Linked DNA regions of Homo sapiens: all the other regions are linked to region 1. The links come from fine-mapping of genetic effects on gene expression. A gene starts in region 1. Each other region holds a variant in brackets. All regions are shown on one strand. Distances are from middle to middle. Region 1 holds the start of BSCL2 (BSCL2 lipid droplet biogenesis associated, seipin). Region 2 holds the start of POLR2G (RNA polymerase II subunit G). Region 3 overlaps AHNAK (AHNAK nucleoprotein). Region 4 holds the start of AHNAK (AHNAK nucleoprotein).

Evidence for each region. PIP is the estimated chance that this variant, and not a neighbour inherited with it, causes the effect.
Region 2: its variant is fine-mapped to the expression of BSCL2 in whole blood (TOPMed, PIP above 0.99).
Region 3: its variant is fine-mapped to the expression of BSCL2 in macrophages (Alasoo 2018, PIP 0.95).
Region 4: its variant is fine-mapped to the expression of BSCL2 in whole blood (TOPMed, PIP 0.97).

What each region holds. Positions count from the first base shown.
Region 1 is chr11:62,704,355-62,712,438 of GRCh38, reverse strand. BSCL2 (BSCL2 lipid droplet biogenesis associated, seipin) reads left to right here and starts at 5,015. Exons shown (of 11, transcript NM_001122955.4): 1 at 5,015-5,330; 2 at 6,822-7,138. The coding sequence starts at 5,244. It overlaps GNG3 (G protein subunit gamma 3), which reads right to left and starts at 4,763. Exons shown (of 3, transcript NM_012202.5): 1 at 4,524-4,763; 2 at 4,045-4,144; 3 at 3,238-3,761. The coding sequence starts at 4,143. The coding sequence ends at 3,633. HNRNPUL2-BSCL2 (HNRNPUL2-BSCL2 readthrough (NMD candidate)) reads left to right here. Exons shown (of 24, transcript NR_037946.1): 14 at 5,115-5,330; 15 at 6,822-7,138. RefSeq lists enhancers at 2,342-2,981, 3,112-4,311, 5,631-6,304 and a silencer at 5,972-6,311.
Region 2 is chr11:62,755,128-62,763,227 of GRCh38, reverse strand. It overlaps POLR2G (RNA polymerase II subunit G), which reads right to left and starts at 1,648. Exons shown (of 8, transcript NM_002696.3): 1 at 1,568-1,648; 2 at 1,324-1,433; 3 at 202-361. The coding sequence starts at 1,579. RefSeq lists enhancers at 1,440-1,639, 5,875-6,401, 7,780-8,100. The variant T/G (reference allele first, on the strand shown) is at 3,066.
Region 3 is chr11:62,531,913-62,540,012 of GRCh38, reverse strand. It overlaps AHNAK (AHNAK nucleoprotein), which reads left to right. Exons shown (of 5, transcript NM_001620.3): 2 at 3,446-3,544; 3 at 3,915-4,068; 4 at 4,823-5,010; 5 at 5,939-8,100. The coding sequence starts at 3,915. Among named protein-coding and RNA genes, the nearest start is that of AHNAK, 11 kb to the left of the region's middle. RefSeq lists enhancers at 1-308, 309-911, 3,490-4,689. The variant G/A (reference allele first, on the strand shown) is at 3,663.
Region 4 is chr11:62,543,331-62,551,430 of GRCh38, reverse strand. It overlaps AHNAK (AHNAK nucleoprotein), which reads left to right and starts at 4,625. Exons shown (of 5, transcript NM_001620.3): 1 at 4,625-4,771. RefSeq lists enhancers at 1-260, 3,988-4,518, 5,097-5,607, 5,608-6,118 and silencers at 4,474-4,643, 4,764-4,833, 5,114-5,163, 5,174-5,293, 5,824-5,953. The variant C/T (reference allele first, on the strand shown) is at 4,583.

The DNA.
Region 1 (8,084 bases):
GTGGGTAGTTATTAGTCTATTTAGTGCTTGCTTAGGCCAAGAGTCGAGCCATTGAAGTATAGGAAAATAAATTATAACTCACGACCTCTGTATTTGGCCTATGCAAAAACTAGTTGGATGCTTGAAGTTAAATGTACATTGTGGAGCCAAATAAGTATATTCATGAATAATTACTGCTAGGGGGAAAGCCCACTCATTCAACAGAAGTTTGATGGGGGTTATTTTCCAGTGAATCTGGAGAACGAGACGGTAAATTAAATTTACAACAGCGCCATTGCTTTTTTATTTTTTATTTTTATTTTTATTTTTTTTTTTTGACAGAGCCTCGCTCTGTTACCCAGGCTGGAGTGCAGTGGCACGCTCTCGGCTCACTGCAACTTCCGCCTCCTGGGTTCGAGCGATTTTTCTGCTTCAGCCTCCCGAGTAGCTGGGACTACACATGTGTGCCACCAGGCCCAGCTAATTTTTTTTTTTTTTTTTTCCTAGTAGAGACAGGGTTTCACCATATTGGCCAGGCTGGTCTTGAACTCCTGACCTCGTGATCTGCCTGCCTCAGCCTCCCAAAGTGCTGGGATTACAGGTGTGAGCCTCCGCTCCCAGCCACCATTGCATTATTAGCACTGAAATGATCCTAACGGCAGTTTCTAATAAATGGTCAGGGTCTTAAAGCTGAGATACCACAGGCTCATGACATCCAGTGTTCTGAAGGAGTAGTAGTATTGATGTAGATACTGCTCTAATTCCTACCCTCTGTATGTGACACGGATTCAGATACCCGGGTTTACAGTTTTGTACCCTGAAGGCCACCCTTAATTTTGGTAGCCATCTATTCTTTAGGACATTTAAGTTGCTGTTAGAGCTAATTAATCATTTTTTAAAGTGGTTAATCATAGCTCATGCCTGGTCTCTAGTTACTGCTTAAACCCCATTTTCCCACCTAGCGCTGTAGCCACGCAGTTATAATCTGATGGGTAGGAACATTGAGTGTGCAGAAAAATTGAAGAGAGGCGCTTTGTTTTGTTTCGTTTTGTTTTGAGACGGAGTTTCGCTCTTGTTGCCCAGGCTGGAGTGCAGTGGCACAATCTCGGCTCACCGCAACCTCTGCCTCCCGGGTTCAAGTGATTCTCCTACCTCAGCCTCCCAAGTAGCTGGGATTACAGGTACCCGCCACCACACCGGCTAATTTTTGTATTTTTAGTAGAGACAGTTTTCACCGGGTTGGCCAGGCTGGTCTCGAACTCCTGACCTCAGATGATCCGCCCGCCTCGGCCTCCCAAAGTGCTGGGATTACAGGCATGAGCCACCACGCCCGGCCGGCCAAAAAGAGGCTTTCTTAAAAATCAAGGTTACATTTATTAAACACTCTAATTTTTTTTTTTTTTATTTAACCATGTCTGAGCTGTTGTGGAAAATTTCACTTACTCCCCTGGAACTTGCCCAACACCGTGATACAGTGGGGGTGAGGGAGGCAAGGTGCTTGGTCCCTGCCATGCCACATTTGCCATTTAAGCATGTACAGTACAATCTATTCATTGGGTATTTGGGTGCCTGATATGTGCCATTATCAGGATACAGGGATTAAAACGGACCTGACCTGATTGATCCTTCCTGGAATTTTCACCGTGCCAAGAAGGAACTGAGGCTCCTCCGCAACAGAATGGGGGTAGGGTCCCACTCCAGGAGGGCAAACTTCTCCCGTTTCTTCATCTCTAGGATGAGGGAATTAATTAGAAGATCTCCAGGACTTCTTAGAGCTCAGAAGTTCCATCAACAGTAAAAAGTTGCTTGGGACACCTTAAGGTGACCCAAGTTCACTGGGTGTCCCTGGAATTCATGAAGATATCCTTAGGAGGCTAAGTTCAGTTGCTGGTGATAACAACCTTTCTTCCTTTGGTTTCCTTTATCCACTTTGCTGTCTTCTGTGCAAAGATACCTGGAAGCTGGAGGTAATGAGCTGTCCCTACTATTTCAAAGCAGCCTCCCTTCCCGAAGTATATCCAGGCACAAAACAGGAGCCAGCCTAGGCTTTTCCTGGGGAGGATGCGTCCCTGAGTTTAGGGGACCTCTAGCAGGAGCACACGTACTGGGATTGTTACGTTCTTTGTCTTGTCCCTGGTCCCATCTCGCCTCTGTGCACCCTTGGAAGGAAAAGATTCTAGGAGGCATTCTGGTGTTCGTAAACCTCCGCCATGTTTGAGTCCTGGAGATGACCATGACATGTTAAGCCTTAAGTTTGGTCCCTGCCCAGACAGCATGCTGGACTTTTGCAAGGCACATTAGGGGTGCGGCCACTGCTTTCTGGCTGCTGTGGCTGAATCGGCCTGAGGGGAAAATGAAAGCAAAAACAAGCCCCAGTTCTACTAGGAAACCCAAACTGAGCAACTTCAGGCTTATCCAGCTCCTGGGAAGACCAGGAAGCAACTGAGGAGCGGTGCACCGAGACGGACAGGGTCGGGGGTTAACCCCCTGCCGCTAATATTTCCGCTCCAAAGGGAGCCTCTCCTTTCTTGGCAAAATGTAGAAACCTAGATTCCCTCGCAAGATCCACGCGACCAGCGTCGGCCACGCTGTACTTCCTGGGGTCCCCTTGTTTAGTGATTCTTCGTTATGGCCGCCCGTGTGCCTTCGACTCAATCGGGAGGACACCGAAATCCAGATTTCGGGGTTGCAGGGCGCGGGCCCCGGCTTGGTTAGGGCAGGGGCAGCCATTTTGAGACCAGAAGAGGGCGGAAGGGACCATATTGAGAACGCCGGTTGCCTGGGGGCCGCCATTTTAAGAGAAGCCCTGTACGGTAAACTCCGTGACGTGGGGGCTGCCATGTTGGTACGGCCATCTTGGAATGGGAGTGGCTGTGGGCGCAGCCATCTTAGGTATAAAATCGGCTCCAGTCGCGGTAACTGAAGCCAAGCTCCGCCCCTACCCTCCTAAGAGTTCCTCTGCTGTACGACTGCACTCCCGCACCCTCCCCTAAATCCCCCCTCTTCGGCCTGTTTACCTTTTAACTTGGCTTCGTTGCACGTTTGTGTGTGTGTGTTTGCTCTTCGCAGCCTCTTGAGCGTCTTTTGTACTTAATTCTTACACTGTGGACGCTCTCTCGCGCCCGCCATCCCCCGACCCCTCTGATCTCCGATCCTTGACGATGTCTAGCCTGCATTGATTGGCCCTTTTCCCTGGGTATGGCAGATCTATTGCTTGATGATCCTCTCCCCCCAAGAATTCTAACACAGGAGCTGTCCTGAGGCTCTGGATGACTTTATTCTTCAAATGGCTTTACCCTCCCAGTAGCTCCAGGTGAGACTGAGAGCAAGAACCTGGCCCATCCCTCTCCATTGTCTGAGCAGGTCACCGAGGGAAGCGGGCAGGACGCGCTGGCAGAGTCTGACGGGGCCCTGCTGTGGGTGGAGCAAAGGGTGCCTCATATCTCTGGGGTGCTTGGGGTCGGCCACAAAGGTGGTAGGAAATGGGGTCGACAGATAGGTGAGGGTGGGCCTTGTGCTTCAGATAACCTCACATGGTCAGGCAAGGGTTAGGGATGGGATGCAAGGAGCCTAAGGGGCTCACAACAATTACTGACCTAAGGAAGGGCCCAGGAGAGGGAAAAGGGAGGAGTTGTGAGAAGGGACAGGGGAGCTCAGAGGAGAGCACAGAAGAACTTCTTCTCCCGGAAGGGGTTCTCCGAAGTGGGCACAGGGGTGATGAGGGGATCCTCACAGGCGTGGGCATCACAGTAAGTCATCAGGTCTGCTGCTGCCTTGGACACCTGGGACACAGCCAGGAAGGGTATTGTTAGCCAGGACCTCTGAAGGGGACTGCAGCCTCCCTCCCCAAATGGGTTCTCTTTTGCCATCTCCAGGGCTCCTTACGACTTGTCTTCTCCCTCATCCCCCCCAGAGGCCTGGGGACAGCTCTCTCTACAGAGCCCCAGACTCCTCCCCTGACCTCAGGGAGTGAAGGAAAGAACGCATCTCTTATCTTGAGCTTTGGGAACCTGCAGCACAGCACAGCCTGGCCAACTAATGGGAGCCAGCCAGGGTCCCACCTACCTTTATCCGACACAAGCTGGCTTCAATCTTAAGCTGTTCCACCATCTTGCGTGCTTGCCCAATACTCATAGTGCTGTTCACCGGGGTCTCACCTTTCATCCTGGAAAAAAGAGGGACCTCTCAGAGCACAGTCTCAGCTGGAGGCCCCCCTCCATGCTCACTCCACACCAACCTTTACAAGGCTGTGGTCATACCCCAATATTTTGTTCCCCTCCTATCCTCCTCCTCCTCCTCCAGTGGACTGTCTCATCCCTGTATTCCTCATGGAAAAAAATAGGGTGGGATGAGGTGCTCCCCAAACTCCCTCATGGCCTGGGCCACAGATCATTAAACCTTACACAAATGATTTAAGGCTTTTCAGCCCTTCAAACCATGTGTGTTCCCAGCTCTGAAGACCTCAACCAACCCTGATGAGGAGGGCACATCACCCCTGTCTGCTCCAGTGAGCCCCAACAGGAGAAAAACAGGCCATTACTTACCTGAAGCCACAAGCGGCAGTAGCAGCCCTGGGTGTAGGGTCAGTGGAGGGTACCAAAACCTTCTGCCTGAAATGGGTGCCCCACCCAGTAGGGAGTTGCAGCTGAAAGTATCTGATGCAGAAGCAGTGACTATACGAAAGGAGGCCCCTGGGGAGGGCCAGGCCAGAGGTCTGGTCTCAGTTTCTGCAGCTCAAGCACTGTCTGGATGGCTGGTACCTGAAGGATGAAGGATGCTAGAAGGAGCTGCTCAGATCCTGGAGCATACCAACTGCCTGGCCAGTGGGGGAGCCTAGCTGCCTGCATCCCTGCGCACACCCCCACTGTCGCTAGTTCACTGCCTGCCCCTCCCCCATTGCAGGCATCCTGACTCTGGGCTAGAGACCTCCCCAACAGAGCTGAGGCCAAGGCCGACTCCCCCTCTCAAATGGCGTGGTCTGGGCCTATGACGGCCCCTGCAGTGGAGTCTGTACTGGCTGCGGGGGACCCTGCTCATTTGAAAATCTGACATCAGCTGGGCAGTCGCCCCCCTCCTCCTTTCCTCCCTCTACTCTGACACAGCACTTAGCACCTGAATCTTCGTTTCTCTCCCAGGGACCCTCCATTTTCCATATCCAGGAAAATGTGATGCGCCACAGGTATCAGCGTCTGGATCGCCACTTCACGTTTTAGCCACAAGTGACTCAGTGGAAGATCCAGAGTCAACAGAGGCTCGTCAGGAAGATGTCTACAGAAAAGGTAGACCAAAAGGAGGAAGCTGGGGAAAAAGAGGTGTGCGGAGACCAGATCAAAGGACCGGACAAAGAGGAGGTAGGGGCCCTTGTGGGGACAGTCAGCAGAAATATACTGGAAATAGGTGGGCTGGCGTGAAGGGGGCGGGGGGATGGATTGGTTTTAAGAATTTCATTCATTTTGAATAGATTACTTCCCACGCCCGCAGCAGTGTGCAAAGATGTACACAACACTGGCCTTGCCTCTGAAGGACTTTATCTGGGGTGATTAGACGTCTACAAAATAGAAGACTGCCAAAAGCTAGTCTAGATAATGTGCTGTGGGGACTCTGAGGGAGAGTGTATCCAGTTAGGGTCAGAGGAGGTCCACAATGCTACCACGCTGGGAACAGGGCACTAATCTGCCTGCGCAACAACGCAAGAGGCCCAGGTTGCCGCAAACTGCAACATGCTCTAGGCGAATGCCCCCGCCTTAGATGCCTACAGGTCCTAGGAGCTGTGGGCGATAAAAATCAGCGCCAGCTGGATGACCGCCTCACTCGGCCGCTTCGCGGGTGAAATGGCCTGTGGTGAAGGTGTGCACGGAGGGCTGTGATTGCAGTCTCAAGGGAGAGCCGAGCGGAGGCTGCAGTCAGCGCATCCCCTGGGGCACATCTTGGGGCCTGCAGGGAGGCAGGCGTCTTTCCCCTTTGGTCACGGTAACCGGAGGGAAACCTGCCGCAGAGAGAGCCAGTGGCGAGCGCAAGGAGACAGCGACCTCGCAGCTCGGGAAGGCTCCGCCCCGTCCCGCCCCGCCCCGCCGTGCTGGACCCCGCCCTGGGCTGAAGCCCCGCCTCCCACGGCTACAAAAGCGGCCGGCGGAGAGGGGCGGGACTTCCCCGGGAGCCGGAAGTCCCGTCTCACGGTTGCCCTGGCAGCGCGCGAGGCTGGTGAGTCGGCAGCCCTGTGGCAGCCGGCGGGCTGGTTTCCATGGTTGCACGATTAGGTAGGGGCTCCGGGCGCTTTGCCCACCCCCGAGCTGGAGGGGACTGGCGGGAAGCGGCGGTTGGCTGCAGGGCGCTCCGCCGGGCGTGGGGTGTAGCCGTGTCGGTGAGCGAGCTCTGCTCGAGGCGGAGAGGAGAAACTCGGGAAGCAATTGTGGCTACTCTAAGGCTACTGGTTTCGAGTCAGGCCGTGCGACCTTAGGCAAGTCGCACATTCTCTCCGTGCAGCTGCCTAGCAGTGTGGATTCAGTATCACCGTGTGTGTAAAGCTCTTTCTAAGAATCGTAAGGTGCTTATTCTTTGTTATATAGCTGTGAATGAGAATCAAGGTGGTTTGTCCCAGCATCAAATGACTGGAGAAGGAATTCCACTGAGGAGATTTAGCACTGGGCGGGAGGGAACACAGTGGAGGAAAGGGAAGGGGTAATTGGCAGAGTGGCACAATCATTTGGAGAAAGGCCATATATATGAAACAATGACTTTGCTATCCTGCTATCTCTCGTTCCTCAAAGCCAGTCCAGTAAGCTGTTTTGTCCCCACCTCCCTGGGGAAAGGAGTCACTCTTTTCCCTCACCCTCTCTTTCCAGGAACCACCAGCTGCTGCATCCCATGGCCAGGGGTGGCGTCCAGGTGGCAGAGCAGCTAGGAACGCAAGGCCTGAACCTGGGGCCAGACACCCTGCTCTCCCGGCCATGGTCAACGACCCTCCAGTACCTGCCTTACTGTGGGCCCAGGAGGTGGGCCAAGTCTTGGCAGGCCGTGCCCGCAGGCTGCTGCTGCAGTTTGGGGTGCTCTTCTGCACCATCCTCCTTTTGCTCTGGGTGTCTGTCTTCCTCTATGGCTCCTTCTACTATTCCTATATGCCGACAGTCAGCCACCTCAGCCCTGTGCATTTCTACTACAGGTGAGAGGGGCCTTCTATCAAAATAGAGGACTCCTATGGGAATTGTAAGGCCCTTGGAGTTCATTCAGTTCAATCCCCTCATTTACAGATAAGGAAAACTGGAGCCAGGTGTGCTTCCAGGGCCTCTCAACTTTCACAGCCCAAGGCTAGATTTGGGTTGCCAGGGCTAGGGTTCTAGTTCTACCTCTGATTACTGAATTCTGGTTAAAAAAAAAAAAAAAAAAAGGAAAAATATCCACTTCTATCATTATGAGGATCAATTCTATTTTGGTTGGATCACCCCTCTCTCAGGGCCAATGTAGAATTTTGAGCCAACTCAACCCTTTAGTGCAGAACCAACCTGGCTTTCAGTAGAGGAGCTATTAGGAAAGCAGCAGTTTGCTTTTTACATTACTGCCTCTCAGTCCCTGAAAGTCGGCTACACAATAGAGATTATGGAAACATAAGATGAGTAGGCGCATAAACTTGCTTCCCAGAGAGTCTTGCGTCTTGACTGGCCCCTTAGGTTCCTTCTCATTTTACAAACCCTGCCAAGTGCCAAATTCTCTCTTTTTTGAGGTGGAGTCTCTCTCTGTTGCCCAGGCTGGAGTGCAGTGGTGCAGTGTCTGCTCACTGCAACCTCCCAGGTTCAAGCAATTCTCGTGCCTCAGCCTCCCAAGTAGCTGGGATTACAGGTGTGTGCCACCACATCTGGCTAATTTTTGTATTTTTAGTAGAGATGGGTTTTTTTTTGTTTTGTTATTGTTTTTGTTTTTGAGATGGAGTCTTGCTCTGTCGCCCAGGCTGGAGTGCAGTGGTGCCATGTCGGCTCACTGCAAGCTCCGCCTCCTGGGCTCACGCCATTCTCCTGCCTCAGCCTCCTGAGTAGCTGGTACTACAGGCACCTGCCACCATACCCAGCTAATTTTTTTTTTTTTTTTTTTTTTTTTTTAGTAGAGATGGGGTT
Region 2 (8,100 bases), 51 kb before region 1:
CCTAGGAGGCAGAGGTGGCAGTGGCCAAGATCGCACCACTGCACTCCAGCCTGGGCAACAGAGCAAAACTCTCTCAAAAAAAAAAAAAAAAAAAAAAAGTGAAGTGACTTAGCCAAAGGCACAGAGTTATGAAGTGGAGCCAGAACCCAACCCAGATCTTCCGAGAGACTACCCCACTGCCTCCCCTATGTATGGTCTCACCTTGTTGACCTGAGTGACAACAGCATCCACGACCTCCCCTTTAAATGGCCGGAAAACAATGGCCTTGTACTTAACTGGATAAAGGACAAAGCCTCGGCCTGGCTGGATCACACCAGCACCAATATTGTCAATGGTGGTGACAGCAATTACAAAGCCATACCTGCAAGGAGGATGAGAAACAGGAAGACACTGTGTGTCCAAGAGCCTCTAAAGACATCTGCAATAAAAGTCGCTGAGCTCTTGGGGGTAGGGTCGGGGAGAGCAAAAGGACAAGTAGATAGCACCTCTGCTCCCAGAGAGCTTAATGACCAAAAGAAGACAGAACAGAGATCAGTATGTGTAAGACCAAATGCTGTTCTGGTAATTTCACAATAAATGTCCAAGAAGGCTGGAGTCCTTGAGGCAACAGATCTCAATCTTCGGGATGCCTGAGAATCATCTTCTTAAAATGCAGATTCTCAGGTCTGCCCCAGACAGTCTTGATTCTGTAGGGAATAAGGAGGCTCAGGAATCTGCATGTTCCTGCAGGTTTTTCTGATGCTGGAGGCCCAAGTACTCCACTGCCCTGAGCTGGGTCCCAGCTCATTAATATCAGAGAGGCCCCTCTGTGCAAAGCCCAGAGATGGTCAAATCCCAGGCTACTTCCTTCCTCCCCCAAACTCTCGATCTGCTTTTTCTGGTCATTCATTCAGAAGATATATAGAGGCCCATGGTGTGTGGTCCCTGGGCACAGGGGATAAGAGAAAACCAGCAGAATGACAGAGGGAGAGCAGACACAGGAACAATGATTACACTGTGAGCTCCACAGGGGCTGTCCTCATTCTATCTTGTTCCCATTCTACCTTGTTCTGAGCCCAACACGGGTCCTGGCACACACCAAGGGTTTTTAAAATGTTTGAGGAGTCAATGAATGACCCATCTCAGCTGAGAGAAGGAAGTCTTATTGTCCAGCATTGCAGAGGGCGCCCTGGGAACCCAAAGCAGGAAGCAACTGGCTGCCTGAGAGAGGAGAGGGGTCCCCAGAGTGGGTGGCAGGACGAGTAGGAGTTGGGGAGGGGTTGCAGGTATAGCGCCCCGTGTGCGCATCGAACGATCTGGCGGTGCGGTGAGCTCGACACTCACTTCCCTGTGCAGGTCCCCTCCACCTCGGTGAAGAGCTTCTGCTTCACCGTGTTGAGCAAGTTGGGGCCGAAGTAGCGCGGGTGCAGCAGGATTTCGTGCTCTAGGGAGATCTGCGGAGAAAAGTGGGATGGCGACCAGGCCAGGCGCTGGCAGGTTATTGGACGACAAGGGGAGTCTCGCGCCGGCGCCTGGCCTTGCTCTTCCTTTCCACCCAGCCCTTGCCGCCACCCTGAGCCCTGCTCACATGGTAGAACATCTTCCCAGACCAGGTAGGCAGGCAGAGTCCACACCTCCGACAGTCCCTGGGAATCCACCGGAAACACTTAGACGCCGCAACCCCAGTTCCGCGCTTGCTGCGACTAGGAGGGCGGAACACCACCTCCTCCGCGAGGGCGGAACTCCACCAGCTCCGCGGGTCTGATTGGGCCTCGCCGTCGTGGGCGAGAACCACTAAGCCCCGCCCCTCACCCCCGCCCCCCAGCCATCAAACGACAACTTTTTTTTTTGAGGCGGAGTCTCCCTCTGTTGCCCAGGCTGGAGTGCAGTGGCGCGATCTCGGCTCACTGCAACCTCCGCCTCCCGGGTTCAAGCGATTCTCCTGCCTCATCCTCCCGAGTAGCTGGGATTAAAGGCATGTGCCACCACACCTGACTAATTTTGTATTTTTAGTAGAGATGGGGTTTCTCCATGTTGGTCAGGCTGGTCTCAAACTCCCAACCTCAGGTGATCCACCCACCTCGGCCTCCCAAAGTGTTGGGATTACAGGAGTGAGCCACCGCGCCCGGTCGGCAACTATCTGAATTGCTTGAACCTGGGAGGCGGCCCGAGATCTTGCCACTGAACTCCAGCCTGGGCAACAAGAGCGAAACTCCATCTCAACAGATAGATAGATAGATAGATAGATAGATAGATAGATAGATAGATAGATAGATAATAGATAGATAGATAGATAGATAGATAGATTGATAAATGCTACCACTTACTGCTTTCTTCCTAGATGCCTGGGCAACAAGAGCGAAACTCCATCTCAATAAATAAAATAAATAAATAAATAAATGCTATCACTTACTACTTTCTTCCTAGATGCCAGACACTGTGCTAAGCGCTTGATATAATTCTCTCCCTTAATTCTCATAATAATCTACAGAAATTGGTGTAGAAATAAAAAAAAAATGTTTACGAGCCTTAGCCAAAAGGCCAAGAAGCTACAGAAAATAATGAAATTTAGGCCGGGCGCTGTGGTTTACGCCTGTAATACCAGCACTTTGAGAGGCCGAGGCGGGCAGATCATGAGGTCAGGAGATTGAGACCATCCTGGCTAACATGGCGAAACCCCGTCTCTACTAAAAATACAAAAAATTGGCCGGGCGTGGTGGCAGGCGTCTGTAGTCCCAGCTACTCAGGAGGCTGAGGCAGGAGAATCGCTTGAACCCGGGAGGCGGAGGGTGCAGTGAGTTGAGATCGCGCCACTGCACTCCAGCCTGGCGACAAAGCAAGACGGAGTCTCAAAAAAAAAAAAAAATTTAAGAGCTATTGGAAGCCCAAAAAACACTTTAAGCCTCGAGAGAGATATGACTGCGAGTCACATATAGTTTACAACTTCTGTTCTCAGATTATAGATTAACTCTTTTTTTTTTTTTTTTTTTTTTTGAGACGGAGTCTTGCTGTGTCGCCCAGGCTGAAGTGTAGGAAATCCATGACTATTTCATCCTCTGTTAAAAAATGTTACATGCGCCGGGCAC[T/G]GGTGGCTCATGCCTGTAATCCCGGCTACTCGGCTACTGGGGAGGCTGGGGCAGGACAATTGCTTGAACCCGGGAAGCTGAGATTGCAAAGAGCCGAGATCGCTCCACTGCACTTCAGCCTGGGATGCAGAGCAAGACTCCCTCTCTCTTTTTTTTTTTTTAATAGAGACGGGGTTTCTCCATGTTGGTCAGGCTGGTCTCGAACTCCCGACCTCAGGTGATCCGCCCACCTCGGCCTCCCAAAGTGCTGGGATTACAGGCGTGAGCCACCGCGCCCGGCTGACTCCCTCTCAAAAAAAAAAAAAAAAAAAAAAAAAAAAAAAAAAAAAGTTACATGCAAATCACGAGATCAGAAGTTCAAGACCAGCCTGGCCAAAATAGTGAAAACCCATCTCTACTAAAAATACAAAAAATTAGCCGTGTGTGGTGGCAGGTGCCTGTAATCCCAGCTACTCCAGAGGCTGAGGCAGAAGAATGTCTTGAACCCGGGAGGCGGAGGTTGCAGTTAGGCAAGATCTTGACACTGCACTCCAGCCCAGGCAACAGTGCGAAACTCCAAATAAAAAAAAATTGGAAAAAAAAAGTTACATGTATACTTCCCAAAAAGAAACATTGTCTATAGCCAACCAAATTGCTATAACTATGTACCAATCTTCTGTGAAAAATGTAATCCTGCTAAAAAGTCATGTGTGCTTGCCTATATAAATGAAATCTTAACTTTCTTACTTCACAACACTGACTCCATTCTTCTGGAGTTGGTGGTTCCAGGTGTTCCATTCTCATACTTCGCACTTGAAAAAACTCTAAATTAGGTTCTGACCCGTCGGATTATTTTAGGTTGACACTGATACTATTATTATTCCTACCTTATACATAAGCCAGAAAAAGATTAAGGGGAGGTATTTGGGTATGAATAGCTGACCTGCTCCAAAGCTTGTGTTCCTTTTTTTTTTCTTTTTTCTTTCTTTCTTTTTTTTTTTGAGTTGGAGTCTCACTCTGTCGCCTAGGCTGGAACTTAGTGGTGCAATCTCGGCTCGCTGCAACCTCCGCCTCCCAGATTCAAGTGATTCTCCTGCCTCAGCCTCCCAAGTAGCTGGGATTACAGGCGCCCACCACCACGCCCAGCTAATTTTTTTTTTTTTTGTATTTTTAGTAGAGACCAGGTTTCACCATGTTGGCCAGGCTGGTCTCGAACTTCTGACCTTAGGTAATCCATCTGCCTCAGCCTCCCAAAATGCTGGGATTACAGGCCTGAGCCACTGCGCCCGGCCCCACCTTTTTTTTTTCTTGAGAAAGGGTCTCATTCTGTCACCCAGGCTGCCAGGCTGGAGTGCTCATTGCATTCCCCAGCTACAGGTATGGGTCACCATGCGCGGGTAATTTTTTATTTTTTGCAGAGATGTGGGTCTTACTCTGTTGACCAGGCTAGTCTTGAACTTCTGGCCTCAAGTGATCCTCTTGCTTTTGTCTCCCAAAGTGTTGGGATAACAAGTGTGAGCCCTCACACCTGGGAAAGTCGCATTCTTCACTACTGTAAACTCTACTGCCTGAGACTGAAACTTTGGATAAAAAAGACACCAAAGCAATGACAAGGATTGTTGTGTCTGCTCCTCAAAGTGTGTGCACGTAGAGCCTGAAAGCTCAGAACAGCAATTCTGAAGTTGTGGTCCCCAAAAGAACCTTTCAGGGGATTGGTGAAGTGCTCTTCTAGTTACATGTCTGTGTGAGACCAAATTTTCTTCATGTATTTCAATCAAAACAATATATCCTAATAGCTAATAGAAGCAGATGTGAAAATCGAGCTGTCTCCTATCGAAACAGTGTGATATTGTGAAATATACGTTTCTTTGACCCTATTTTCTGCCATACAACTCCTAAATCTCTAAAGTGATTTTTTTGGTATGCTAATGTTAACTGATGGCTGGCAGGCCCTAGGTAGCTTCCGGATGGGGGCTGGTCACCATAAAGAGCAGGGCATGATTGGAAGGTTGGGGTTTTCAGCCCACCCCCAACTTCTGGGGAGTGGAGGGGGTGCTGAACTGTTGAGTTGATCACCAATGGCCAATCGTTTCAGCAGTCATGCTTGCATAATGAAGCATCCACAAAAATCCAAAAGGACTGGGTTCAGAGATTCCACATAGCTGAACACCTGGAGGTTCCTGGAAGGTGGCACACCGGAAGAGGGCTCGGAAGCTCCACATCCCTTCCCCCATACCTCACCCTAGGCACCTCTTCATCTGCATCCTTTCAAATAGCCTCTATAATAAACCAGTAAAGGTAAGTAGGTGTTTCCCTGATTTCTATGAGCCACCCTAGCAAGTTAACCAAGCCCAAGTAGAGTTGTGGGGGCCTAGATTTACAGCTGGTCAGTCAGAGGCATAGGTAAAACAGCCTGGGGCTTTTGACTAGCATCAGAAGTCAGGGGCCATGTCTGGTAAACAATAATTTGATTTAAAAAAAAAAAAAAAGGAAGGGAGGGAGGGAGGGAGGCAGGGGAAAGAGAGAGACAAGAGAGAGAAAGAAGAAAAGAAAAAGGGGAAAAGAGAGAGAGAAAAGAAAGAGAGAGACAGAGAGAGACAAATAAAGAGACAAAGAAAGAAATAGAAAGAAAGGAAAGAAAGGAAGGAAGGAAGGAAGGAAGGAAGGAAGGAAGGAAGGAAGGAGAAAGGAAAAGAAAAGGAAGGAAAAGAAAAGAAATAAAAGAAAAAAGGAGAGAAAAGAAACTAGTACCGGGGGGCCGGTGGGGAGGGCGGTCTTGAGATCTGCACCCTAAACATTTGAGATCTGAGGTTATCTCCAGGTAGACAGTGTTGGCATTAAACAAGAGGACACCCAGCTGGAACTGCTTGCTTGTGGACTGGGGAAAAAACCAACACATTTGGTCACACAGTAGCCTTCTTTGTTGATTGTTGTGGTGGTGTGAGAGGAGAGAAAAACAGTGTCTCCCCCCAACCCCCCTGTAAAACAATGCCATTATTCTCACGACATATTTATTGATTTTGGTAAATAGTTATTTTTCCATCTCTATTTTAAAAAAATACATATATATATATATATATATATATATATATATATATATATATATATATGCCGGGGGCGGTGGCTGACGCCTGTAATCCCAACACTTTGGGAGGCCGAGACGGGCGGATCACCCGAGGTTGGGAGTTCGAGACCAGCCTGACCAACATGGAGAAACCTTGTCTCTACTAGAAATACAAAATTAGCCGGGTGTGGTGGCGCATGCCTGTAATCCCAGCACTTTGGGAGGCAGAGGCGGGTGGATCATGAGGTCAGGAGATCGAGACCATCCTGGCTAACACAGTGAAACCCCGTCTCTACTAATAATACAAAAAATTAGCTGGGCGTGGTGGCCGGCGCCTGTAGTCCCAGCTACTCAGGAGGCTGAGGCAGGAGAATGGCGTGAACCCGGGAGGCGGAGCTTCCAGTGAGCCAAGATCGTGCCACTGCACTCCAGCCTGGGCGACAGAGCGACACACTGTCTCAAAACAAACAAAACAAACAAATATAAATATATATGAGGCCAGGCAAGGTGGCTCATGCCTGTAATCACAACACTTTGGGAGGCCAAAGTGGGTGGATCACCTGAGGGGTCAGAACTGCAATGAGACAAGATCACCCCACCGCACTCCAGCCTGGGCAACAGAGCAAGACGCAAAAAAAGAAAAATAAATGAAAATTAAATTAAATTAAAAATTAAAAAGGTCAGGCTTGGTGGCTGACACCTGTAATCTCAGCATTTTGGGAGGCCAAGCTGGGAGGATCACGTGAGCCCAGGAGTTCAAGACCAGCCTGGGCAACACAGAGTCCCCCTTCTCTATTTACAACATATACATACATATATTTTTATATGTATATAATTTATATATTTATATTTACATATATGTATATATAAAAACATATATATATTTTTTGAGATGGATTCTCCTGCCTCAGCCTCCCAAGTAGCTGGGATTATAGGTGCCAAGCTAATTTTTATATTTTTATTATTATTATTTATTTATTCTTTTTTTTTTTGAGATGGAATTTCACTCTTGTTGCCCAGGCTGGAGTGCAACGGCACGATCTCGGCTCACTACAACCTCCGCCCCCCAAGTTCAAGTGATTCTCCCGTCTCAGCCTCCCAAGTAGCTGAGATTACAGACATGCGCCACCACACCCTGCTAATTTTTGTACTTTTAATAGAGACAGGGTTTCTCCATGTTGGTCAGGCTGGTCTCGAACTCTCGACCTCAGGTGATCCACCTGCCTCGGACTCCCAAAGTGCTGGGATTACAGGCATGAGCCACTGTGCCCGGCCCATTTCTTAGTTTTAATTCCTATACAGTAAATATTGTATGGCTTGTAAGAATGAACACAGTGTCTTGAAGAGGCATGATCTCAAGCTAAGGCCAACATATCCTGAATGTATGTAGCACAAGTTTGTTGTATAGATGAACTCTCCCTAATTCTGGTTAGGTCTGATCGGAGGGCCTGACTGCAGAATAAAGTAGAGATGCTTAGGGTGGTGGGTGAAGGAGTGAGGATTAGGGCACCGAGTTTACTCCTCTAGTAACACTACCTGGGTCAGACGGGGCAGTTATCAGTGACTCCCAACTTATAGCCTTTTCCTCTGGGTGTGTAGAGACTCTCAAAGATTTCTTCAGTAGACACGGTTTTTGCTTCTTCTCTCCTGTCCTGGGACATTTTATGATCCTGACCCCATTCTTACCCTTCCTACCAGCACCTGCTCAGCACGCTCTGGAAACAAAGAACACTCTATCCTCTCACTGTAAATTGACTGTAGAGTCCAGGCTAGGGACACCACGACATCATCCCTGTAGCTGCTAGTTCTTTCATGCCATCACTGAGCCGGGAGCCCCGGAAACTTAGCTTGGAGGAGTGGAGCAGTAGGGCATCTTAAAATGTTTTTTTGTTTGTTTGTTTTAGATGGAGTTTTGCTCTGTCTCCCAGGCTGGAGTGCAGTGGCGCTATCTTGGCTCACTGCAACCTCTGCCTCCTGGGTTCAAGAGATTCT
Region 3 (8,100 bases), 170 kb after region 1:
AGGCTCCAGAGGTGGAGGAGAGACTGAGGGCTGGGACCCAAATGCAGAGAATGGGAAACCTGGCTACACAGTATCCCACGCCCCTCCTTCAGTATTCCCTTCAGTATTTCCATGCCCTTCCGCGGAACTGAATGGCCCAGGTCAGATGAGAGGGGAGTCCTTCCAGGCTGTGCCAGGACAGCAGGGCCACAGCCAGAGCAGGCAGGGTGGTTGGCAGCCCCACCTGGCCGGGAAGCCACTGGGTGCCCTGCCAGGGCCAACCTGCAGCTTCGGGTCCAATGGCTCCCGTCCTCACGGGCTATTGGATCGGTGTCTACTTAGGATGGTTTCTCCCCTCCTCAGGAACCACGTAGGTTGCATCTGTCCTGGGCCTCAAAAGGGACTTCTGCCCTGGGACTCTGCCTGAGGCCCTGGCAGGGAAGCCAACTGCCTGTCTGCAGGGCAGCCCTGGTTCCTCTGGCACCTGGGGGTCTGGCCCAGGAGGCACTTTGTCCTTGGGGTTTTAGGCTCAACCCTTTGCAGGTCTGGAGCTGTTGCAGCCAGCTGCAGTGACTCACTGGGGCGGGAGGGTGGGGCCGAGGTGTGGGCGAGGGTGAGCTGGCCCAGCTAGCTCTTTCCCCCTCGCTGGCTGCTGGCACAGCACCAGGATGCTGGGGTGAGCAAAGGGGCCCTGCTCCAGGAGGAGGACAGGGGTGTCTGGGCGATCTGAAGGAGTGGCTTCAGTTCTGTCTGAGAGATGAAGTCTGGAATCTGTTTTCCTTCCCTGCCTCTGCCTGGCTGCTTTTCTGCAGGGCTGGCTCCTGAGCACTGGACAGTGGGAGAGAATGTGCCATTTAAGCCCCAGCTTTGCTGTTTCTTGCTGGGAAGGGTCAGAGTGATTTCCTGTCGCAGCCTTCTCTGCAGCCGGAAGGGAGGAGGTGTTTTCGCCAGTTTGCACCTGAGCCCAGAGGCTCAGAGTCTTTGCTCACCTTGTAGCCAGCACCTGTGTTGACAAGGAGACACATTGTCCACACCGCGTTGTCAAACAGGAGGATGGCTGTCGGGGGCTGGGGTCTGTGTTTCTCTTTCATCCGTGTTGTGATCTGCCTGAGATAGGAACTGCTAAGTGCCCACGAATTCCCAAGAGACATAGTCTCATCCTCAGAGGTCACCTGTAGCACCTTCAAGACCCCATGTATATTTCATTTCCCCTAGAAGGCTCCCAAGCCTTCTGGAATATTCTGCGGCAAAATCGGTCACAGCTAGTGCACTTTGCTCATCATATGTATCTGTGACAGGAACTGAGTCTTAAATCTCCCTGTCTGGCACATGGGTGCGTGAGTGATGTGAGGTCACCGTCTAACGCAGCGTGTAATTAGGTGCTGGGCCCAGCTGTGTCCATCCCTGGCTGGTTCCGTCTGTAGTGCAAAGTATAGTGTTGGGCATATGGAGGCAGCCGGTATACATGCATTGATTGACTGTTGATACTTTCCGGATGTAAACGGCTGTAGGCGGGGCTTTGGCTTAGGTTCCCCATGACTTATAGTGTCCCCCACACCATTTCAATTGGTGGCTGCTGCCGCCATTTTGTGCTGTGGCTGTAGTCCGTGGCCCTATGCAGAGTCCTGCCTGGTGTCTTTCTAGGGCACCTGCAGATGACAGCTCACCTTGTGGCTGGAGGGCGAATTTATTACTAAATGCTTGCACCTATAAGGGCCTGGCTCAGGGCCTGGTGTGGCAGCCGGGAGGCCTGAACTCACTGTGGGCCAAGGTGGGCTCAGCTGGGCTCTAACCTCTGGGGCTTGGGCGGTGCCTGGTGGGGCCGGGGCCTCCTTTGTTCAGGCAGCTGCCTGTGGCAGGGCTCCCAGAGCTGCCAGCTGGTGAGGCACCCCCCTGGTCCTGGGTACTGGGTGAGACTGGGTGGCCCAAGTCTCTGTCTCTGAGGGAGGTGGAACACTGACATTCCTGCTTGGAGGCAGACTCTGAGGAGGCTCCCACCTGTTACAAGCAGCAGACCTGGGGTGGAGTAGGCAAAAGACTTACAGACTCGGTCGGCCGGGTGCGGTGGTCACGCCCGTAATCCCAGCACTTTGGGAGGCCAAGGCGGGTGGATCACAGGGTCAGGAGTTCAAGACAAGCCTGGCTAAGATGGTGAAACCCCATCTCTACTAAAAATACAAAAAATTAGCCGGGCATGGTGGCGGGCGCCTGTAATCCCAGCTACTCGGGAGGCTGAGGCAGGAGAATTGCTTGAACCTGGGAGGGGGAGGTTGCAGTGAGCTGAGATCGTGCCATTGCACACCAGCCTGGGCTACAAAGTGAGATTCCGTCTCAAAAAAAAAAAAAAGGAGTTACAGACTCGGGTCCAAGCCCAGCATAGTTGTGCTCTCATGTGTACCCCGGGTAAGCTGTTCTCTCAGAGACTCAGTCTCTGTCTGTGAAATTGGCACAGTAACATCTCCCTCTTGAAGCTGTGGTTGAGAATGTGGGTAGATGCTGGGCGTGGTGGCTCCTGCTTATAGTCCCAGCACTTTGGGATTGTTTGAGCCCAGGAGTTCCGGACCAGCCTGGGCAACATGGCAAAACCCCATCTCTCCAAAAATACAAAAATTAGCCAGTTGTGGAGGCACGTGGCTGTGGTCCGAGCTACTTGGGTGGGTGAGGCAGGAGGATCACTTGAGCCCAGGAGGTCGAGGCTGCAGTGAGTCGTGATTGCGCCCCTGCACTCCAGCCTGTGTGACAGAGCCAGACCCTGTCTCAAAAAAATAAAAAGAGGCCAGGTGCGGTGGCTCACGCCTGTAATCCCAGCACTTTGGGAGGCCGAGGCGGGCGGATCATGCGGTCAGGAGATCGAGATCATCCTGGCTAACACAGTGAAACCCCATCTCTACTAAAAATACAAAAAATTAGCCGGGTGTGGTGCATGGTGGCGGGCGCCTGTAGTCCCAGCTACTCGGGAGGCTGAGGCAGGAGACTGGCGTGAACCCGGGAGGTGGAGCTTGCAGCGAGCCGAGATCCGCTATTGCACTCCAGCCTGGGCAACAGAACGAGACTCTGTCTCAAAAAAAAAAAAATAAATAAAATAAATAAAATACATAAATAAAAAGAATGTGGCAAGAGTGTGCATGTGAAGCGGCTCCTGCCGGCCAGTGCTCTATTTTTTCTCCTTTATTGCCTCCATTTTCACAGATGAGGAAATGGAGGTTCAGAAAACTGAAGTGTCTTGGCCAGGGTCCCACAGCTAGAAGGAGGCAGAGCCAGGATCTGACTGCAAGTCTGGCTCCTCTGAAGCCCCTTTCTGCTATGCCGGGCTGGAGAGTCATGGACGAGTGGAATTGACGGCGGTGGTGGGGGTCGGGTTCTGAGCTGGCCTGGGTAGCAGAGGACCTGGCTATCCCTTGGGTAGAGACTTGGAGCAAGCAGACTGCCGACCGGAGTGCGAGCATCATCGTGAACTTTTCCCTAGGTTGTGACCGAGATTCCCGACGAGAGAGACTGAGGGGAAGAGAGGAAGGAGGGGCGGGCTCCTGGCAAGGCATTCGCTCCTGAGCGGAATCCTGCAAAGGTCAGTAGGTGGGAGAGGCAGAGAGAGGCGGAGGTGACGGGATGTGGGGAGGGTGGGCCCTGTGTGGATGGGAGGCTGGGGCCGTGGGGGACAGGGATGAAGGGCCAGCTACCTCCGG[G/A]TCCAGTTGCCTCTGCTGTCTCCTTTCCATCTTCTTTGCTGTGCCTTGGGAGAACTTCCACAGTGGAAGGACGTGAGACGAATTACCCCACCCCCAACACCTCACCTGGCAGGTGAGCCAGCTGCAGGGGCAGGTGCATTGCTGAGGGCCCCACTCCCTGGAGTTCACAGCGCCAGAGATTGCTAGCTTTCCCATGCCCTCATGTCCTCCCACCCCCACTGACCCCAGTTCCATTTCCTCACCTCATTCCAGATGGAGAAGGAGGAGACAACCCGGGAGCTGCTGCTGCCCAACTGGCAGGGTAGTGGCTCCCACGGGCTGACCATCGCCCAGAGGGACGACGGCGTCTTTGTGCAGGAGGTGACGCAGAACTCCCCTGCGGCCCGCACTGGGGTGGTCAAGGAGGGTGAGTCACCCCAGGGTGTGGACTGGGTGCTGGTGGTTGGGGGGTCGGTGGGGGTGTTGGAGGGAAGGGCAGGGAGCAGGCAGAAGTGGGTGAGTGGCTGTCGAGGGCCCATTCCCAGTGGCATCAGGGTGGTTGGTACCCAAGCCCTGCCCTCCCTTGGCCACTCTGTGTCTGTCACTTGTGGTCCTCAGGGGAGGCAGCTGTGTGGGGTAGTGGACACCTGGTCCTCAGATCTGACTCCACCACCCACTAGCTCTGCAGATTTGGGCAAATGAGTTGGCCTTTTTTTTTTTTTTTAGATGGAGTTTTGTTCTTGTTGCCCAGGCTGGAGTGCAATGGCGCTATCTCAGCTCACTGCAACCTCCGCCTCCTGGGTTCAAGCGATTCTTATGCCTCAGCTTCCAGGGTAGCTGGGATTACAGGCATGCACCACCACACCAGACTAATTTTGCATTTTTAGTAGAGACGGGGTTTTTCTATGTTGGTCAGGCTGGTCTCGAACTCCTGACCTCAGGCGATCCACCTGCCTCGGTCTCCCAAAGTGCTGAGATTACAGGTGTGAGCCACTGCACCTGGCCCCCACAAATTGGCCTTTCTAAGCCTCAGTTTCCGTGTCTGTACAATGGGTATTACCATGCCCACCTTGCAGGGTGGTCATGAGTTCAAGTCAGTTCAGTGCCCAGTGTGTGGTGGCTGTGTGCGGTTTCCCTGAGGCTCTTTGGGCCTTACCTGCTTCCTGCTCTTCCCTGCTCAGGGGACCAGATTGTGGGTGCCACCATCTACTTTGACAACCTGCAGTCGGGTGAGGTGACCCAGCTGCTGAACACCATGGGGCACCACACGGTGGGCCTGAAGCTGCACCGCAAGGGGGACCGCTCTCCCGAGCCTGGCCAGACCTGGACCCGTGAAGTCTTCAGCTCCTGCAGCTCTGAAGTGGTTCTGGTGAGTACCTCGCCGGCCCATCTGTGCCCTGAGCTCCCCCGGCCATGCCGGCCTGCTGACCCCACTCCTGAGCCTTCCATGTGCCTCCGGACCCTCTCTTTTTGCTCCTTCTTCTCCTCTCACCTGTCTTCACTCTCTTGAGCCCTTGGCCACCCTGTTTCTTTCCGCTTTCGTGTGACATGTGGCTGTGCTCCCTCTAAATGTCTTCAATCAGTCTCTTCAGAGCGGCCACAGTATGGGAACTGACTTGTGCAGCCCGGCCCTAGATGCTAGGAGGAAGGTCAGCTGCTTTGCAAGAATCTTTGAAATGACTTCACAGGTGCCCAGCTCCACCTCACAGACACCATTTTTCTCTCTGCAGAGGCCTGATACATTCTGTGGGTCAGACGCTGGGCAGCAAAGTGCCTGTGGGGACATTGGTCCTTCTGATGGCTTGTTTATTTAACAAATAATGGGTCCTCAAAGTGAGACTGTTAACCCAAGCACAACCAGTCTCTTAGGCTCAACGAGTGCTTTCAGGGTCCAAGGGCCTCTGAGAAGATTCCCCTCCTGATTAAACAAACAAGCCAGTGGCTTGAGAGTTGGGAGCTGAAGGGCCTGGTCTCTTGGGAGGTGTCCCTGGCACAGGCTGATTTGAATCTCTAACTGAATGGAAATCCTCCCAGTCCAAGAGTATACCTCCCACTCCCTCCCCACGGTTTTTGCTTAGCGGTATGACCTCCAGAGAATTTCTGATTTCCTCCTGTGATGTGGCTGTCAGCCCCTTTCTTCACTCCCCTGTGCTGTGCCCCAGGAGGCTCCATGGACCTCTGTTTTGGTCCCAGCTTCTCTGGGAAACAGGCAACGTGTTGTCGGCTGGGCTGTGGCCGGGCATCTGCTAACTCAGGCAGACTCTGCTGCAACCTCTGCCCGGCGTGTCTTTCTGCAGAGCGGGGATGATGAGGAGTACCAGCGCATCTACACCACGAAGATCAAGCCACGGCTGAAGTCGGAAGATGGAGTGGAAGGAGACCTCGGGGAGACCCAGAGCCGTACCATCACAGTGACCAGAAGGGTCACGGCCTACACTGTGGATGTGACTGGCCGGGAAGGAGCCAAGGACATAGACATCAGTAGCCCTGAATTCAAGATCAAGATTCCAAGACATGAACTGACTGAAATCTCCAATGTGGATGTGGAGACCCAGTCTGGGAAGACCGTGATCAGACTGCCCTCGGGCTCGGGGGCAGCCTCTCCGACAGGCTCTGCTGTGGATATCCGAGCAGGGGCCATTTCTGCTTCAGGACCAGAGCTCCAAGGTGCTGGCCACTCGAAGCTCCAGGTCACCATGCCTGGGATAAAGGTGGGAGGCTCAGGTGTCAATGTCAATGCAAAGGGCTTGGACTTGGGTGGCAGAGGAGGGGTCCAAGTTCCAGCAGTGGACATTTCATCTTCTCTTGGGGGTAGGGCAGTAGAGGTACAGGGCCCATCTCTGGAGAGTGGTGATCATGGCAAAATTAAATTTCCCACCATGAAAGTGCCGAAATTTGGTGTCTCAACAGGGCGTGAGGGCCAGACACCAAAGGCAGGGCTGAGGGTTTCTGCACCTGAAGTCTCTGTGGGGCACAAGGGCGGCAAGCCAGGCTTGACTATCCAAGCCCCTCAGCTGGAAGTCAGTGTGCCCTCTGCCAATATTGAGGGCCTTGAGGGGAAGCTGAAGGGCCCCCAAATCACTGGGCCATCACTTGAGGGTGACCTAGGCCTGAAAGGTGCCAAGCCACAGGGGCACATTGGGGTGGATGCCTCTGCTCCCCAAATTGGGGGTAGCATCACTGGCCCCAGTGTGGAAGTTCAGGCCCCTGACATTGATGTTCAGGGGCCTGGGAGCAAACTGAATGTGCCCAAGATGAAAGTCCCCAAGTTCTCTGTATCAGGTGCAAAGGGAGAGGAAACTGGGATTGATGTGACACTGCCTACAGGTGAAGTGACTGTTCCTGGGGTCTCTGGGGATGTCAGCCTGCCTGAGATTGCTACTGGTGGGCTGGAAGGAAAGATGAAAGGTACTAAAGTGAAGACTCCTGAAATGATTATTCAGAAACCTAAAATCTCCATGCAGGATGTGGATCTGAGCCTTGGGTCTCCTAAACTGAAAGGAGATATTAAGGTTTCTGCTCCTGGGGTGCAAGGTGATGTTAAAGGCCCTCAAGTGGCACTTAAAGGCTCCAGAGTGGACATAGAGACACCAAACCTAGAGGGAACCTTGACAGGCCCTAGGCTTGGCAGTCCTTCCGGGAAAACCGGAACCTGTAGGATCTCTATGTCAGAAGTAGACTTAAATGTGGCCGCACCTAAAGTGAAAGGGGGTGTAGATGTCACACTCCCCAGAGTAGAAGGGAAAGTCAAAGTCCCTGAAGTTGATGTCAGAGGCCCCAAAGTGGATGTCAGTGCCCCAGATGTCGAAGCGCATGGCCCAGAATGGAACCTGAAAATGCCCAAGATGAAAATGCCCACGTTCAGCACTCCAGGAGCCAAAGGGGAAGGTCCAGATGTTCATATGACTCTACCCAAAGGAGATATCAGTATTTCAGGGCCCAAGGTCAATGTGGAAGCCCCAGATGTCAACTTGGAGGGTCTGGGGGGAAAACTTAAAGGCCCCGATGTTAAGCTGCCTGATATGAGTGTCAAGACACCAAAGATCTCCATGCCTGATGTAGATTTGCACGTGAAAGGTACAAAGGTGAAGGGAGAGTATGATGTAACTGTACCAAAGCTGGAAGGAGAACTCAAAGGCCCAAAAGTGGACATTGATGCCCCAGATGTGGATGTTCATGGCCCAGACTGGCACTTGAAGATGCCCAAGATGAAAATGCCCAAATTCAGTGTGCCAGGGTTCAAAGCAGAGGGCCCAGAAGTGGATGTGAACCTGCCCAAGGCTGATGTGGACATTTCCGGGCCCAAGATAGATGTTACTGCTCCTGATGTGAGCATTGAGGAACCAGAAGGGAAATTGAAAGGGCCCAAGTTTAAGATGCCTGAGATGAACATCAAAGTCCCCAAGATCTCCATGCCTGATGTGGACTTACATCTGAAAGGCCCTAACGTAAAGGGAGA
Region 4 (8,100 bases), 160 kb after region 1:
GTCTCTACTAAAAATACAAAAATTAGCCAGGCGTGGTGGCGCGTGCCTATAATCCCAGCTACTTGGGAGGCTGAGGCAGGAGAATCGTTTGAACCCAGGAGGCAGAGGTTGCAGTGAGCCAAGATGAGCCAAGATCGTGTCACTGCACTCCAGCCTGGGCGACAGAGCTAGACTCCATCTCAAAACAACCACCACCACCACCACCACAACAACAAAACAACAAAAACACCCAAAACATAGTGTGTCGGGGGGGTGCTGGCGGGGGAGTAGCTGTGTAAATTACCTGGTAGGAAAGATAACTCCAATTCTCTGGAGGCATAGGACCTCCAAGGAATTCAAAGGACAAGGTAAAGGGGTATCGGAGCCGTTTCCGCCTGGACTGAGCTTTTTGCTGGGATTCCATCTTGCCAAGGTCTCTATTGCTTCCACCACCACCACAGTTCCCCAACCCCATATTGGACACACAATAAATGTTTGGGTAGCTGCAAGAAAGACCCACAAGTAGAGGAATTGCTCCCTGGGGGCTGAGAGCCAGAGGAAGTTGTGACAGCCTGGGATGCAGGATGCTATCTATTGTAGAAAAGGCAAGGGCTTTGGAGCCAGTTATACCTGGAGTTCATTCATTCATTTGAAACATGCTCTTGAGTGATTGCTATGTGTCAGTCAGTGCTCTAGGCATGAGGGGCCAGGGTGCGGTGGCTCACACCTATAATCCCAGCACTTTGGGAGGCTGAGGTGGGAGGATTGCTCAAGCCCAGGAGTTCAAGACCAGCCTGGGCAACATAGTGAGACCCTATCTCTACCAAAAAAAAAAAAAAAAATTAGCTGAGCATGATGGTGTGTGTCTGTAGTCCCAGCTACTTGGGAGACTAAGGTGGGAGGATCACTTGAGCTTGAGAGGTTGAGGCTGCAGTGAGCCATGAATGCTCCACTGCACTCCATCCTGGGCGACAGAGTGAGACTGTCTCAAAAAAAAACAAGCAAAAAACCAAAACAAAACAAAAAATCAGTTAATCTAGGCACAAAGCATACAGCAGAGAAGAAAGAACCCTGTCCTCATGAGGCTTAAATGCTAGCGGAAGCTTTGACTCTTGCCTCTGTGAGTTGTGTGATTTTAGGTAAATCACGAACCCTTTCTGAGACCATTCCTCACTAAGTGCCTCCCTCCCAGGGTGTGCAAGGATTAAATGAGCTGACAGATGAAAGTAGCTCCTGACAAAGTGGCTCACACCTGTAATCCCAGCGCTTTGGGAGGCTGAAGTGGGCAGGGATCACCTGAGGTCAGGAGTTCGAGACCACCCTGGCCAACATGGTGAAACCCCATCTCTACTAAAAAATACAAAAATTAGCCAGGCATGGTGGCACACGACTGTAGTCCAGCTACTTGGGAGACTGAGGAAGGATAATCACTTGAACCCAGAGGTGGAGACTGCAGTGAGCCAAGATCACGCCACTGCAGTCCAGGCTTGGCAACAGAGCGAGACTCCCTCTCAAAAAACAAAACAAAACAAAACAAAACAAAACAAAAAAAAAACCAACGAAAGTAGCTGCTGCAGGATCAGACACAATCATATTAAGGTAGTTTTGGGAGGGGGTGTGGGGGAGGCTACACCAGCGGGCAGAAGGAGAAGAGTTGGCAGAAGTTTCTAAAAGTGTGCGTTTCTCCACTTAACACCACTGAAAACTTTTGAAAATATTCCCCTCCCTTGGGCTGAGGTGGCAGTCTTAGGAAACCCCAGCTCTGTTCCAGCCTGCAGGATCATTTTTTTTTTTTTTAGACAGAGTCTCGCTCTGTTGTCAGACTGGAGTGCAGTGGCACGATCTCAGCTTGCTGCAACCTCCACCTCCTGGGTTCAAGCGATTCTCCTGCCTCAGCCTCCCGAGTAGCTGGGACTACAGGCGCACACCACCATGCCCGGCTAATTTTTGTATTTTGAGTAGATACGGGGTTTCATCATGTTGCCCAGGCTGGTCTTGAACTCCTGACCTCAGGTGATCCGCCTGCCTCGGCCTCCCAAAGTGCTAATTTTTATATTTTTAGGAAAGACGGGGTTTCACCATGTTGGCCAGGATGGTCTCGATCTCTTGACCTCATGATCTGCCCCCGCTCAGCCTCCCAAAGTGCTGAGATTACAAGCGTGAGCCACCGCCCCCGGTCAGGATCATGGTTTTTTAGAGGGTAGGGTTGAGGTTAAGCCTTCTCTAGCCCTCCAGTCTGGAATGGGACAAGAGCCAGTCCTCAGAACTACCCCCCGACCAGGTAATCTTGACATTCATATCCCTGAATGAAGTACCTGGTCAGTGATCTCTGCTCTGGGGCTGCTTCAAAAACCAACCTCTCCCTCCTGCCTTCTTCCCTGTTGACCAAGAGGGTGGCCAGAACAAACAATGGAGCAGATAAGTTGGCTCTGAGCCTGGGACTCTGGCCTCTGCTGTTTGGATCCTGGGGGGCCGATCTAGCCCAGTCGAGGCGAAGACACAGCGTCCACGCCTTTCCGTGCTCTTCTTCCTTTTCTGCTCTAGCAGCCCCCCACGCCCCCTTAGCCCTTTTTGCAGATACCCTGTGTTTCCAACCTAGGTGTGAATCAACTCCTGTTTTAATATGCACTGGGAACATTCGCTCTTTCAAGGAACGAGATGATGATTCATTCCATAAAGTTAAAAATCCTTTGGTAAACTGTTAACAATGGTTACTTTTGGGAAGAGGGACTGTGATAGGGGAGGAGGGAGAAGTCTGTGTTTTATTGTACTTTTTTTTTTTTGAGATGGAGTCTCGCTCTGTCACCCAGGCTGGACTGCAGTGGCACGATCTTGGCTCACTGCAACCTCTGCCTCCCAAGTTTAAGGGATTCTCCTGCCTTAGCTTCCCGAGCAGCTGGGATTACAGGCTGCGCCACCATGCCCTGCTAATTTTTGTATTTTTAGTCGAGGCGGGGTTTCACTATGTTGGCCAGGCTGGTCTCGAACTCCTGAGCTCAAGTGATCCACCTGCCTTGGCTTCCCAAAGTGCTGGAATTACAGGTGTGAGGCATCGCGCCTGGCCTTGGTAATTTTTTTTTAAGTGTTCTATAGCTCAAAAGTTTTAGATTTGTTTTTTCTTTAAATAAGGTAGGTGCTAGGAAAGGGGTGCAGAACAAAATGGGGGAGCAGGTGATTCTTGGGAAAGTGTGAGTCTGTGACTGTGTGCTTGGGATGTGTTGTGGCGAGGCTGCCTCTGCCATGGGGTTGAGTCATTATCTGGGCACCTGTGTGTGTGTATTAGAGAGAGCAAGAGAAAATGCTGGTGCCCAAGTCTCCGCTTTGTGTTTTCACATGTCTCTGCCTGTCTGGATGTCTGCACATGCGGCTCCACCTTTCTGTGTCCATTATATGAGTGCCCATGTCTGTGGTTCCTCTGGCTGTCTCTTCCCTCCCCCACGGCCTGTACTCTGTGCCGGTAACTGGACCTGGACACAGCCCCCAGGGCTGGCAGCAGAGTTGACTGCTGGGTATTTTTAGCCTGTAAACATGTTTGCCATTTCAGAGGACAGGGCCGAGCTGGTCTCAGCTCCAGCCCACTCATGATCTTGCAGCAAGGAGGGCGCTCCTGCCTTGGCCAGGTCTCCTTAGTTCCCCAGCCTGGGGTCTCTCTTTCCTTAGCATTTGGGAAGGAGGGGAAACTGGCTTGGAGCGGGCAGTGGGTGGCCACCTAGGAGGGAGGATAAAAGGACTCATGAGGGAGAAGAGAAAGGGAGTGTGGAGGGGAGTGTGTAGCCAGAAGGCCCCCGCACCCCATCATTAAACGTTTAATAAAATCTCGATGTAGTTAGAAGTGGCTGTGGGAAATCGCTGTAAATTAGGAGACTCAGCGTCCCGCAAGTGGGGAGGCGGGGGCGGCGCTCAGAGAAGGAATGGGAGGCAGAGGAAGCGCTGGGGCTCTGGCTCCTGGGGGCGGGAGTCTGGAGAGGAAGGTGGGCGTCGGGTCCGCTGTCCAACGCCCGGGGTCCTCACCCCCGTATGCCCGCGGCCTGCGCAGCACCGCGGTGCGCGAGGCACTGGTGACCCCGGCTCCTGGGGGGTGGAAATCCAAGCCAGTTCTGTGCGGATATGGACGGAGGGGCCCCCAGAAAGAGAGAACGCGAGAAATGGGCGCGGCAGCACGGAGCTTGGGAACCAAGCAAGGAGGCTGGGGCCTGGGATCTGAAGTGTAGTTGCCTAAGCTGAGAGAAAACTCAAAGGTCCGGAGCAAGCTGACGGTCGCGGCTGAATCACCCAGCCACCTTCAGAGCCCCCAGGCCCTTCCTGCAAAATAAGTTGATTCGCAGTTCCAGCTGTGAGGGTGAGCCCAGGGAGCCTGCAGGAGTTTCTTGCCAATGAAGCCACACAGTGCACATGTTGGAGAGCAGGTCCAGGTCCGGGACAGGACAGGGGGCAGTGGATGCGGGGAGGGGGGGAAAGAATGTCCCCGCGTCCCCCAGCGGCCCCCCTCCCCAGCAGCCCACTCCCGGGTCCCTCCAGGGTCTGCCCCGCTCGCCAGTCCCAGCCCCGCTCCGGCCCCGCCCGGCCCCGCCCTCTCCCCACAGCTCCGGGCAGACCCGCCCGC[C/T]CGAGCCGGAGTTACAAGAGCCGCCTCCGCGCACGGGGGCCCGGCCACTCGGAGCTGCTCTGCCGCGGGGACTGCACCGCCCGCCCTGCCAGACCCGCCCGGAACGGGGCTCGTCGCCGCCAGTAGCCGCAGCACCGCAGCCTTGGGCCTCGCGCCGGCTATGGCCGTGCCCTGGGGCTGAGCCCTCAGGTAGGGGCGCCAGGCGCACCGTGGCGCCATCGGGGTCCGGGGCACCAAGGGCGGGTCGCGGGGAGGTGGGTTGCGGTGCTCCGGCAGGGCGCGTTGTTGGGGGTGTCACTGTGAGGATTCAAGCAGTTTGGAGCAAGCGGGGCCACCCGGGGCGGCGACGCGTCGCTCTCTGGGAGCGGAGTTCTGCCTCTGGAGTTGGGGCGCAAGTTGGTTAAAGTTGGAAAATCGCTCCGAAGTGCTTTGCTCCACTCTTTATTTCTCCGGAGGGCGGACTGTTGGCTCCACTGCAAGGCAGGGCGCCCCGTTCCGGGCCTGGTGGCCTCTGTCCCACCTCCTCTCCCTGCATGGGGCGGTGGCTCGGGGGCTGCTCCGTTCGTATCCCATGTTTACTGGAGGGGAAATTTCCGAGATCGCCACCGCGGCCCCCAGCGCCTCCGCGCCTCCGCGACCCCGCACCGTGCGCCCCCTCGGCTGTCCTTCCGCGCTCCCTGCACCTCTGCCCCTAACCGCGTCCCGAGTCGTCCAGGCCCCACCCTGTTCTGTACCACCAGCCCCTCAGCCTCCTCCAGCTGCCCCGCCCTAGCCTTGCCTCTCCGCGTTCCCCGCTCCAGAAAACCTTCCTCTCGGGCCGCGGAACCTGGAAGTTTGCAATGCGCCTCCCAGCGGGATGGGTGGGGAGGGGGACAAAATTAGGGAGATTCCTATGCTGAGGTGGGCGAGGAGGGGGGTGCGCTGCGGCGGCCCAGTCCTCGGGACCGCCCCTTCCCCTCCGGAGGCGGCGCTTTCCCCCCGCCCAACTCCCAAACCCGTCCGGGCGGGATGGCCCCCGCCCCAGAGCCTGGCCCGGCGCCAGCAGCCTGAGGAATGTGGTGGTTGGAGCCGGTGACTAATTCAAACCAGAACTCAGGGAGGAGTGGTGAGGGGCAAAGGGGAGGAGGAAGGGGCTGTGTGTGGGAGTTGGGGGCAGGAGCCGGGCTTGGCGTGGGAGGAGGGCTAAGCTGCGCTCGCTGGAACCCTGCGCTCCAGCGGTGCGCGCCAGGAGAGGGGGCCCGAAGCGAGGTCTCGCCTAGAGTTGGAAAGGCAGCGTGCTTAGGGTGTGTGCAGAGCTGTGTTATGTAAGGCTTTCCCATGCAAGGGGAGGGGGTGTGTGTGTGCAGTGTGCGAGGGCCTGGGCCGTCCCTGGCAGGGCTGGTCGCCCCCCAGCAGTGCCCAGGCCGGGATGTGGGGGCGCAGCCCCTTGGCGGCGCTGACCATGAGGGACTCCAGGGGCCCAAACAGGGCTGGCTGTGCCCCTTGCTGGGAGGGGTGCGGAGGGGGCAGATGGGTGTTCTCAGCTGTAGCCGAGGCCCCACAACAAGGTGGGGAACGGCTCTGGCCCCTCTGCACAATGAGGCCACTGAGGGTTGTGTGCGATGTGTGTGCTTGCCGGTTTCGCAGGGTGTGGCTCCCGCCGCGGCGACCGTGGCAGTGAGGTGCTCCCAGGGAGCGTGCGGTCGCTGCAGAGTGCCCTGCTCTGTGGAGGGGATTTGTGGAAAGGCAGTGTGGGAGCCTCCCAAGTCAGTCAGGTCCTTAGACCTCCGGAGTCTCCGGAGGAAAAGGGACCGAGATATCTACCTCTGTGTCTCCAGCACAGCGCTGGGCGCTCAGTAAATACTGGTTTCGAACCCGTCTTCATTAGAATCCAACCTCGGATTGCAGGGCTCCTGCTCTCTGCTTGCCCGTCCCAGCACAGCCTAGTGCATGGTAGGTGTTGGGTTGATTTTGTGGAATACAGTGAGGGGCTGCAGCAGTGAAGCTGAGAGTGGGGGAAGGCGTTTAAGGGCCCCTGCACCTATACTGGCTGTAATTCAGGGTAGAGATCTCGCTTTCATCCCCTCCCCGTGAGGGAAATCCCAGGGGCAGGGTGTGGCACTCACTTCCTTTCAGAAGCTGAATGGGGGGAAGCTTCCTTCTCCAGTCCTTAGGGACAGCGGGGTCACCCACCCCCCACCGCGTGGATAGTGGCCTGTGCAGAATGGGGAGGACAGGGGAGCCCCCAAGTTAGGGGCACCTCTTTGCTCTGAGCTGTGAGCTTTGGGGTGAGGGAGGGTGGGAGAGGAGCTAGGGAGGGTAAGAGTGGAGCTAGGAGAGGTCGCAGGGTTTGGGGGCTGTGGGAATGTGGGTTAGAGGGTGTCTGAGCCCCTCTCTAAAGCCTTTGTCCCTAAGAGGTTATGCACAGGGACACTGGTCAGAGAACAGGGACACATGGGGAGCCACATAAGTCATGCGGGCTGATATGGAGGCCCACAGCAGCGATTCAGGGGTCCTGGTCCGGGAACTCCTTGAGGAGCCAACCCCTCGGAGCTGAGGACTTGTGGCAGCCAGACATGGTCCAGGGCCAGGGGTGGGACACAGGGACCTGTTGAGGGAGAAGGTCCAGCGTCAGCCCAGGGTACGGAGTTGGCTGGGGGTCCCCGGAGTCATCTTAGCCCTCAGGAAGTCCTGGGGAAAGGTGGCGGTGCTGCCAGGCTGGATTCTTTTGCTCGACTTGGAATTGGCTGGTGGGTCCTGGCAGAGCCGGTCACCCTGAGCCTGAGGAGCTGGTTTGAGGGGTTGGGGCAAAGCCGTGGGGGCGGAGGGGTGTGTGGGGCTCTGGGGTGTGGTCACCACCTTCTTTAGAACTTGGGAACTGCCTGGAGACAGACAGAGAGACAGACCGGGAGAGCTAGTCCTACTCCTTATGGGAACAGTGTGGCTCTCTCCCCCACCATTCCCGAGGCCCCAAAGTTTCTCTCCCCGGAGCTGGGCTGGCACCGTGCTGTGCACGCTTAGGTTTGAGGAAGGGTGATGGCCGCTGGGGAGGATTTAGAATGTGCTGCTTGGGCGGTGGCAGTGGCAGGGATGGAGGGCCTTCTGACTTCTCTTCGTCCCCCATCGATTCATCCAGGCTGGCATTTCCCTGGGCTCAGGCCATCCGGTGGGACTCCCAAGGCTTCCTGAGCACGAGCAATTTCCAGCGTTCCTGGGTGTGCCCGAGGGAGTGTGGGGGGCACGTGGGTGGGCCACAAGAGGATTCCGAAGGAATGAAGCCCCTTTTCCTCCCTGCTGGCCTCAGTTCCCACCAGGGCTGTGGCTGAGCTGTCGCTGGCAGTCTTAGGTAGGTCACTGATAGCATTGCAGGTGTCGTCCCACTGTGGCTTTAGGTCCTTGTGACCACCATGTCACAGCTTGTCTCTGAGTGAGATGTGTGTCATTGCCTGTGAGAGAGTATCCCACTGGTTGTGAATGAAGGTCTTCCCCTTGTGGCGTGCCTGGATGTGTCACCTCTGCCTGCGTTGTCATCGGGCTTG